Regions from separate parts of the Homo sapiens genome. Here region 2 is linked to region 1. The links come from fine-mapping of genetic effects on gene expression. A gene starts in region 1. The other region holds a variant in brackets. All regions are shown on one strand. Distances are between the middles of the regions. Region 1 holds the start of CACHD1 (cache domain containing 1). Region 2 has its middle 120 kb from the start of UBE2U.

What was found.
Region 2: its variant is fine-mapped to the expression of CACHD1 in nasal epithelium (TOPMed, PIP 0.98).

Annotation. Positions count from the first base shown.
Region 1 is chr1:64,467,452-64,472,826 of GRCh38, reverse strand. It overlaps CACHD1 (cache domain containing 1), which reads right to left and starts at 2,698. Exons shown (of 27, transcript NM_020925.4): 1 at 1,885-2,698. The coding sequence starts at 2,082. LOC107984966 (a long non-coding RNA gene) reads left to right here and starts at 2,802. Exons shown (of 2, transcript XR_001738100.2): 1 at 2,802-3,641; 2 at 4,457-4,554. RefSeq lists an enhancer at 1-569 and a silencer at 2,369-2,488.
Region 2 is chr1:64,318,054-64,323,428 of GRCh38, reverse strand. No RefSeq gene overlaps it. Among named protein-coding and RNA genes, the nearest start is that of UBE2U, 120 kb to the right of the region's middle. The variant T/A (reference allele first, on the strand shown) is at 3,273.

The DNA of each region.
Region 1 (5,375 bases):
GCCCTAGGGATGGAGTGAAGGTGGCAAGTGCCTACAAATCCTACAAGCAGAGTCCACAACTCCAATATATTAAGTTTCCTTTATTAAAAGAGGTGCCTCAATGCAAAAATACAATTGTGCTCTGAATGGAAATATTCACCACTGTTTTTTTAATCCTAGTTTTCTATCTTTTCTAAAAGTCACTTCACTCCTAAGAACTCAGCAATAATCAGAAATCAGAAAATGCATATGGAAAAAATTGCAACTGAATCTGAACCTGAAAGATCGGCATAGTTGAATGATGCATCTTAAAAGCTTATCTATTATTATGCAAATCAAGAAAACCCAACTCCATTGCACTTCAGGGCTGGGTGTCTGCAAATAAATGCAAAATTACCTTTCAAAATCCATCCACTCCTCAGTCCTCATGTCACCCTTTAAAAAATTCCGGTGGTCTTTCCCCACAGTAGAGAAGGTCTGTGGAACTTTCCTCAAGAAAATTGTAACCTCTTGGGAGGAGATTGGTGTGGGGAAGTGGAAAGAAGAGGAAGGAAGAAGGAAAAAGAAAAGAAAGAGGAGGAGAAGAACGAGAAGGAGGAGGAGGAGGAAGAAGAAGGAAGAAAGAAGAGAAGGAGAAGACGAGGAGGACGACGCGACGAAGAAGAAAGAAGTAAGAAACCTAAATCCCAAAAGTGACTTAAACACCTCTCCCGGTGGGAGGTGGAAGGAGTGGTCACAGTAGGATGGAAATCAGAAACCTATTCCAAGAACGCATTCTTGGAAACTTCAATCTTTCGAAGACCACATTCATCCCCATGATTGTTAGAATGTGTAAGAGAATGGTGTTATTTTATCTAAGAATGTTATAGCAAAGGTTTCAAGCTGGGAATGTCATCTCAACCTCTCCTAATCTAGTGGGCCTTTATGGCCAAGTGGATTAAAATAACAGCGGGGCAGAATCTCCAGGTGGTTGGTGTTCAGCAATTTTTACTACTGTTGGTCGTGAGTAACATCATCAGGATTCCTTACTAGCTGCGGGCAGTTTTTCTGTCAGCCCTCCTTCCTCTCCCGAGGAGGACGGACATGATAAACAATCTGGAGAAATGGGAACCTTATTCACTTTGCTCCCTTTTTCTTCGACCCAAAAAGGCACACACGAAACAAAAATCATACAGCAGACAGCACGCAAACTACAGCAGGATATGCGGAAAGCAACAAAAAGAGTCCCCCAGCAGGATTAGAGTCGGGAGTCTACCCAGAATCTACCAGGCCAGCCCCTCCCCCCATGCTCCCGGGAGGGGAAAGGAGCGCGGAGCCCACTCGGAGGGCCGCTCTCCGCCGGGACCTAGGTGTCCCCGGGGCAGCTGCGTACTCTGCGGCGCCTTCCCTCCCGGCGCCCATTGGTGCGCCTCGGTAGGGAGGACGCGAGGACGCGAGGACGCGGTCAAGGGGGTGGGGTGGGGACTTCGGAAAATCGTCCGAGCCAGACGGGGCTGGCTGCTCTGGGATGGGGACACAAAGGGGGAGTTTGCAGGCGTGGCAGGGTGAAAACAAGCCTACATGGGAAATGTGTGCAAATTAGAGAAGACGTGCGAGGAAACTGGAGAATCCTTGACGAGATGAAGGCGCTGGTACTCAGAAGAGGGGGGCTGTGCAGGGTCAAGTGGGTTCCGTGCAGAGGGCAGGGGATTCTCCAGAGAAGGGCAGGGGTAGACGAATGCATGGAAGAAGAGTTGGTGTATTGTCAGGGGGTCTGTGCAGAGGACAGAGGGGTCCGACGGGAAGCCGGGCTCTATGTATGCAAGGAGCCGATGCACACAGTCCAGGGGACTTGTACCGGGAGTGGGATGGGAGTTTGAGCAAAGGAGAAAGGCGGGATGTCTGGCCAGCTCGGGGGCCACTTACCTGCATGGTGACGACCCCCAGCTCCTCGGCCGCCAGCCTCCGCATCTGGCTCGCCAGCACTTGCGCCTCGTCCAGGATGGAGAAGTCGGCTTCGGCCCCGGCGCCCAGGAGCCAGCACGCGACCAGGCAGAGCAGCCAGAGGGGCGGCCGCCGCGCCCGGGCCACGGCCGTCTCCTCTTCCTCCGGCTGGCGGGCCATGCTGCCTCCCCCCACTCCCCGCCGACGGGCTCCGGGCGCGGGGAAGCGGGCCGCGGGAGGTGCCCCCCGCAAAAGCGCGGCGCACCCCGCAAAAGTTTCTTCCTCTGTTGCAGGCTCTGCTCCGCGCCGCGGTGGCGAAGGCTCCCAAACTTAGGGGGCGCCCGGCTACAGCGCGGGAGCGCGGGCGGCCACCATCGCGGGGCTCCGCGGCGGTGGGGGTAGGAGGCGGCCGCCCGAGCGGTCCCCGGAGCCCGGCGCCCACACGGGCCCCGCGGCGCAGAGGGCGTCTCCGAGAGCAGGGGCGCCCGCAGGCCGGGGTGCGCGGGCCCCGGGGCTGACAGTCGGAATCGGAGTCGGAGTCGGAGCCCGAGCCGAGCCGCGCGGCTCTCGCTTCCTGCGAGTCCCAGCGCAGCGAGCAGGCGGCGGCGAGGACTGACGGCGGCCCCCGGGGAAGAGGAGCGGCGGCCGGGCTGCGAGACTGGGGCAGCCACCCGAGCGAGGAGGGAAAGGGGAGGCTTCACAAACCCACACAACTGAAAGAAAGAAAGCAAGCGGTGGGGAAAGGGAGGCGTCTGGTGCCACCACGCTGCGCTCCGGCTCTGTGCACTTCCCGGCTGGGCCGCCGCGGCGGCTGCGGTGATTTATGGAACCAGCAAGAGAGGCGGGGAAATTCCCCCGGTTGCCCCTCCTCTCTCTCCCTGGCTCCCGCCTCAGAACCTGCCCCCCGGGACGCCGGGGGCCGGGGGACCAGCCTCTCTCTCTGCTCGGGGACCGGCCCAGCCCGGGCAGGGGAGCCCACGGACCTTCCCGTGGCTGGAGACGGAGACCCCCGCCAGCGCTCCCCGCCTCCGTCCGCGCCAGGGAGCCCACCCGGCCCAGGTTCCAGCCATCGAAAAGTCCTTTAAGTTCTAGGACGCTGGCTGTCTGCCTGGCAGCGGTTGGGGAAGAAGGGGACTGCCATGTGTAGGTCCACTCCCTCTCCTTGATGTTATTCATCACAATGGCTAGCTAGCGTTCCACCCACAGATTTCTGTTGCAACCAGCCACCGTGTGCCCGGCACTGGGCTCGGGGGTGTGCACATTATCCTTTAATCTCCGCGACATGCCATAGGAGGTACGTATCTTTATCCCAATTTTTTAGGTAACAAAGACTGAGGCTTAGAGAGGTGGAATAAATTGCCAGAGGTCACCCAGGGGATAAGAAACAAATCCAGAGTTTAAGCACAAGTCTTACTCCAAGGCTATTGCTCCTAAATACGATACAGTTCTCTCTGTCTCTCTTTGGAAATGAACCATCTGATCCCATCAAAAGCAAGAAAAAAGAAAAAGAACGACTGAACCGGAGTCCACCGCGCACACACCTGTTCTCCCAAGCATGGAGAGGCAAGGTTAACCTTCCTGTTTGTCCCTGACTACTGGCTCAGGCTCGCTGAGAAATCACCTGTTGGAAGCACCTGGAACAAGTCAACCTGCTGTGTGTGGAGAACAGCCACTCTCCCTTCCAAGCCCTGTGTGGTTGCTGCTTGCAGGTTCCTGGAGAACAGAGCCAACACTGGAAGGTTAAAGGACTAGTCCAGGGTTACCTAGCAGAGGTGGTAGCAGGATTAGAACCTGGATTTAGGACTCTTTTCATTTTACAGCAAAACCTTCTGTTTTACATCTTTGACTATATTGTATTAAAAAGTCATCTTCTCTTGTAAGCTCTCCCTGGCCCATTTTTACCTCATTGAGATCACTTCTCCATTCTCAACTCCCCTGCTAATTTTTGTATTTTTAGTAGAGACAGGGTTTCGCCATGTTGGCCAGGCTGGTTTCAAACTCCTGACCTCAGGTGATCCACCTGCCTCGGCCTCCCAAAGTGCTGAGATTACAGGCATGAGCCACTGCGCCTAGCCTGTGATGTTTGTTTTACATACTAAGGCAAGCATGTTGAGTGTGGGGACCAATCCCTTCACCTCCACATCATCCACACAAGCACATAGTAGTACTGGAAAAATGATTCTTGAGTTAATAATGAGGTAAAAACCTACCTGTATGTCTTCTATTCCTGGAGTTGAGCTGACATTTGTTAGAAAGATGATCCTTTAACTTCCGTTTTTTAAATTGTTGTACCTTTGACATGACACTCCGCAAGAGAAAGCATATTAGTCCATGTGATTAGTGGAAGAGTAAAGAACAAAAATAATAATGACATATAGCATTATTTTTTTATTTGATTCTTCAAGGTTACCATCACCAAGGTGTCACACATCTCTAAACTCCTTCTGAAATGCCTTCACAATAGGCATTTATTGCCCATCTTTTATATGTTGGTATTTCTTGAGGTCCTATTTCTTGGGATGCTAATCCAATGTCACCTTTTTTTCACTCTAAGGTTCTTCTTTTTGAGGACTCTCGACCACATCTATGCCTTCAATTATTACCAAACACGAGTTTATCATACTTCTAAATAAAGCTCAACCTGGATCTCCATTTTTTCTAGCAAGTTCCTGACTTCTCTAGTAGATATACCTGAATGAAAACTCATTACTGCTTTCCCCCATGTTCCACCTAAATCCATGTCTGGCTGCAAATCTAGGTGGATGTCACCCACTCTGCAAGCTAGGTACGCACTCTCCATCCACCCCAGCTCCCAACATATCTCCCGTGTCCATCCCCCGCTGTCCATCTGCATCCTATGGCCTGACTTCAGTTCCTCATTGCAGCTTGCCTGTATTATGACCAGTCTCCTCATGGGTCTCTGTGCAGTCTCTCTGTTCCCCCTCATTCTGTTCTTCACATGGAAGTCAAAATCAACTTTCTAAAAGTCAAATCTCAACTTGTCATTCACTAATCTAAACATTTCTGATGCCCCATCACAGATAAGTAAACTTAACAAACAAGGCCCTTTGTGCTCTGACCCTGTTTGCTCTTCTGGCCTTTTTGTAGCCACTGTGCCCCTCAGTTGCCTCACCACTCCCAGAAAACACCTATATGGCAGCCTCAAAATTCTTCCCCTTCTCTCCACTTGCTAGGTCCCCTATTCAGCTGAGGTGTCATTTCTGTGACACCTACCCCCACAGAGTTTACGGCTCCTCTTTGGTGCTCCAAAGCTCTTGGTTCTTCTCTCAGCACTTAATGTCCCCTCAGCGCTTAACAAGCAACATTGTGATTTTCCACTTGAAAGCTTTGATTTCTCCACCTTGTTTCTCAAAGTGTGATCCACCAAACACACTAGCCTCAGGACACTTAATAAACTGCAAATCCTGTGCTCTATTCCAGGTCTACTAAAGCAGAATCTTTGGAGGTGGGGG
Region 2 (5,375 bases), 150 kb after region 1:
GGCTGGTCTCGAATTCCTGACCTCAGGTGATCCACCCACCTCAGCTTCCCAAACACTTTCTTCACTCTGACCATTGGGAACCCACTGTCCTTTCTTTCTGGGCTCTCTCACTCTCTTGGCAAGTTCCTAATGAGTCAGCCTTTCCTTCAGCTGATCCCTGAATGCACTTCTTTCCTAACTGACCAGGTCTCTCAACTGGCATTCTCTTTCATAACTCCCTTTACAGTGTCTTCAACCTGGATCAAATTAGCATTCTTTCCAGGCCCCAATTTCCTGTTCTCTTCTTTGCTCTTCCTATTCCTGGTAACTTAAGCAGTCATGAAACGATCTGTTGATCTTAATTGCCACCCCGGTGTCCCTCCCAGACACCACAGAGGATGGGCAGATGTGTCTGTCTCCTGCACTTGACAAAGACCTTATCTTCTTTTTGTGTCAGCCCAGTGCCTAACTTTCAGAAGATGCTCTATACCTAACTTTTGGAAGATGCTCTATATTTGCTGAATGAATAAATGAATGAAGAAATAATTTCTGCCTTCAACAGGCTTACCATCTAGTTGGACAGATAGGTACAGCATGTCTTTCTCATTGGACATCACTGGGGGATTAAAAAAATTCTAGACAAGTGAATTTCCCAGATAAATGAAATTTATTCCTTTAAATATCTAATTATATTTCTTAGACATTTTAGATGAGAAAATTTAACTTCTTTTTTTAATTTCTTCTTATATCAGTTAGGACTCTTTATGTTCCCAGTAGTAGAAAACTTAATTGAAACTGGCTTTAATAATAAGAGAATTTTCTTATCTGAAAGCATTGGGTTCGCACTTAGAGGTGTGGATTGTTTCAGAGCCCAGACAATCTCATCAGGATGTAGTTGTTGTTGTTTTTTTCCCCTCTCCATCTCTGGTCTTTTCTTGCTAAATGTTTGCTTCATTCTCAGACAGGTTTCCCTTTGAAGTACAAAATGGTGCCAGCGGCTCCCAGGGCTACCCTCTGCCTTATTCATATTCAGTAGGAAGAGAAGAGGATCTCTGTTAGCTTTCATAAAAGGAAGAGGCTTGTCTTTACCTGCAGACTCAGGTAAACCAGTCCCTGACTGGTTTACATACCCATCTCTGAACCGATTGGTAGTAAGGAAATTGGAATACTGTGCTTTTTTTTTCCTTTCCTTTTTTTTCTTTTTCTTTTTTTTTTTTTTTTGGAGATGGAGTCTTGCTCTGTTGCCCAGGCTGGAGTGCAATGGCGAGATCTCCGCTTACTACAACCTCCACCTCTCGAGTTCAAGTGATTCTCCTGCCTCAGCCTCCCAAGTAGCTGGGACTACAGGCGCCTGCCACCATGCCTGGCTAATTCTTTGGACCAATCTAACCCACTCCTGGGGGTGGCATCAATCACACTCAATCAGCAGGGCTGACATGGGAAGGCTGGAGAGAGAAGGGGAAACAGATGCTGGAGAGCAACCAACCAGTATCTACTACCTCCTTCTCTTCCTTTCTCTCTTTCTTTATCATCTTCTCTACCTCTCCCCTCTATGAAAAGTTCTGTGCTAGGAGTAGAGGCTATAAACATGAGAATATATTCCCTGCCCCTGAGGTCCTCCTGGGTCAGTCAACGGGTAACATGTAAGAATGTAATTATAGCAATGGTAAAATGCTAATAATTGAGAAATGGGAACACAGCAGAGAGGTGGACAGTATTATTGTCCTGGGGAGGTCAAAGAAGGCTTTCCAAAACTGTTAGAACTTGAGCTGATTTTGTAGATTGCCTAAGAGGTAACCAAATAGTCAAGAACAGACACAGCATTCCTTTCAGAGGGAACAGAAAATCCCAATGCAAGTAGATGTGAAAGATGGAGGTGAACTCCAAGTGGTTCTGTATGGCTGTAAGAGAGGTGATAGGGCCTGGTGAGACAGGAAGGAACTAAGACAGACTGTTTGTCAGACACGCTACCGGGCATGGTAAACGCACCACCCTGTTTAGTTCTTACAATGACCCGATGTGTTCTGTAATGGATAAGCCACTGTTAATTCCTACAATGACCTGATGTATTCTGTCATGGATAAACCACTTCACAGCTGTCACTCCTCCTTAGTCCACTTGGCGTCATTCTCCACTCTCTATCCCCTGCCGCACCACCCCCCCCCCCCACCCCCCAACGTCTCTAAGTATAGAAAAGATGAAAGTGGCAGAAACAGATTTTTTTTTAGGGGAAAAGCAACAAAAACAGAAGAAATATAATCCCTGGACAGGCTGTTCTCTGTGAGAAGACGTGACTTCTCAGGCACTTGTCATGTGGGAGTCGCTGTGGTGAGGTTAAAGGGGATGCGAGTATAACCAGCTGCAACAGGGAAAGCTGGTGAGAAGGTTCTGTTAGGACGGAAGGGTAAGAGGCTCCCAAGAATGGAGTGCTAGAGCAGAGGACAGGGCAAGTGATTTAATGCATTTCTGTGAACTGAATTTTTGGACCCTGTATTCATTATATGCACCTAAGTATTGCAAAACTTGGCCTAAAATAATATAAATATTTATCTCACACAGTTTCAGTGGGTCAGGGGTTTGGTAGTAGCTTAGCTGGGAGGTTCTGGCTCAGAGTCCATCATGCAGTGAGGTATTGGCCAGGCTTGACTAGGCTGACAAGAGCCACTTTCATGATGACCTACCCACATGGCTGTGGGCAAGAGGCCTCAGTTCCCCACCACGTGGATCTCTCCACTGAGCATCCTCATGGCATGGTAACTTGCATCCCCCCACCCCCCCGCGCCCAGATTGAGTAATCCAGGAAATAGCAAGATGGATGTGGCAATGTCAGAAGTCACACACAGTCATTTTAGCAATATCCAACTAGTAACACAAGTCAGACCTCTCTGGTGTTGGGGGAAGGGACCTATATAAGAGTATGAATACCAGGAAGTGAGAATCACTGGGGGCCTTGGAGGCCAGCCGTCACAGAGATCCTTAAATGTTTGAGGAAGACCTGAAGAAAGAATTAAAACTTTTCATTATAGGCCACATTCATTAAATGCTTTGCTGCACGGAAACTGAACAATTTTGACTTCTGTCTTTATGCGCTCATTTTGGTGCCTTTAAAACCTATTTTACAGATGGAAAATATTAGTCTATGTCAATAACCATTAAGGAGTGGCTGACCTTGGTCCACCCAAATCCGAAACCCACATAGCTTCCACAGGGTGAGACTAAAGATAGGAAAATATGTTAAGAGGCTCTGCAGTGACAGTCCGTAGTTAAACAGTAAGTGGATTGCAGAACCAGGA[T/A]GTGATCCCAGTTATTTCTTGCCCTCTAGTCCAAACTCATTCTATTGTTCTGGACAATAGAGTTTCTAAATTTCTCTTTCTCTCACTGTTTGTATTCATTTATTCAATGAATATTTTAGAAGCATAAAAACATTAACTTCTTCAAAGGAAAGGATTCTTTCTTATTAATGTTGCTATTCAAACATCAAAAACAATGTCTTGAACATAGTAGGTAATCAATATATCTTATTTTTTTATTGCTTTAATTTTATTATTAATGATTCATTACCTTGGGCAATGTATCAGTCATGGTTGTCAGGAAAATAGAAGTTACTGTAGGCATTTCAGGTTGGAAGCGAATTTAGTATGAGGAGATAGAGGCTTACACAATCCTTGGAAGGGCTGGGGAGCAATGATTGGGAAGACTGCTGCTCACTACCAAGGAATCTGTTTACCAGGAATCCTGGCAAAGCCGCTACCAGGACCTAGGCTACCCGCAGCACCTAGTGATGATTCTCAGGATGGTACCTAGAAACCCCGCAGCTGCCTCCAGAAAACAACGTCTTCCCCTTATTCATCTTCCAAATGTCATCTGAATATCTCTCATTGGCAGAGCCCCTGCTGGAAGGGACTCTGGGAAATCTAATTTCTAGGTTTTCAGTGTCTGTGGTACAAAAGACAGTGATGGGGAACATACTGACCGTCAAAAGACATTATCTGGTGTAGGGATTGACACTCAGATTCTTATGGCTAATCTTAAAGGGAACTTGCATTTGCTTATTATGATACGATATTCTTTGGAGGGCTAACAATTCACGTGACAGATAGTTAAGATCTTCAAAAGAATTATTAGTCTTGTCTTTAATAACATTAACTATTAACAGTAATTATTATTCATAGTGACAACAACAGCATAAGTCAATCAGTATGATCATGAGTTTTAGAATTCTAGAAACCTAGGTGTGAATGTCTGATCTGTGACTTTGGGGAAGTTGTTTAGCCTCCTGACCAGGATAAAGATTTCTCACTGGGATGGAGATAATAGAATCTTCCTTGTAGGCTTGTGGTGAGAATTAAATTAAGTAAAACCTATAAAATACCCAGGAGATACTTAAGAGGTGGGGGCTCTTTTTATTCAATACCAATCACAAAATACTTCAACATACATGATGACATGTGACTAGCCCAATTGGGAGGGGAAACATGAGGAGGAAGAGAAGAGTAAGAGACATGAATTCAAGGAAGGGTCTAGAAGGTTAGAGAGAAAGGCCGAGATGCAGGACCCCAGGTGAAGGGCTACAGTGGGGGTGGCCTGGCAGGCCCCAGGAGAACACTAGGCTTGGAGTTGGCATAACCATCATCTTGTCAACAGCCTCCTTCCTGCTGTCTCTGTTTAAATTGGAGGACAGGAAATAAAAACAAGTGCTGAGTCTATAAAGGCTCTGAATGCTAACATCTGAATGATGACCAAAGATTTAGATACTTTTTTTTTTGCCAAATATTAAAACAATAATGTAAACACTGAGGCTTTTCTTGGGCCCCGGCTCCAGCCCCGGAGGCTTCTGTGGCTCCATTTATAACTAACAGATGAAGAGCAGAGACTGTGGGCTTTGCTAGGCCCATTAACTTGGTCTAATTATTGGAAAATGTTTTTTTCCCAGTGATTAATCACAGATGAAATATTTCAACTCACTTCATGATTTTTTCCCTTACTGTTTCCGGAGCAAACATACTCACACACTTCTCTGTTCCTGTCCTTTGCTTTGGGAACAGACACTCCATCACGCACATCTCGGGCAGTCTTGGAGAAGCACCATGCTGCCCCCAAGGAGAGCAGGAATTCAGGGCCACACTTCTGAGAGGGCTACATCCTGGTCTTCAGCACCCCCAAAGCCACCCATTTCGGTGTCCTTAGTTTTTGATATGGGAACTCGATGTTTTCTCAATCAAGTCCAAGCATTTGTAGAAATAACTTTTGCAATTTGTATTAATTTTTAACACATTCTAACTTAAAGTAATGTGTTTGTTATACACATTTGGATTTAAGTCAGTTTCCTTTGCAACTAGGCTGCAACCCCTGATCCTGAATAGAAATTGAGGAGCTGGTGCTTTTCATCACAGCTC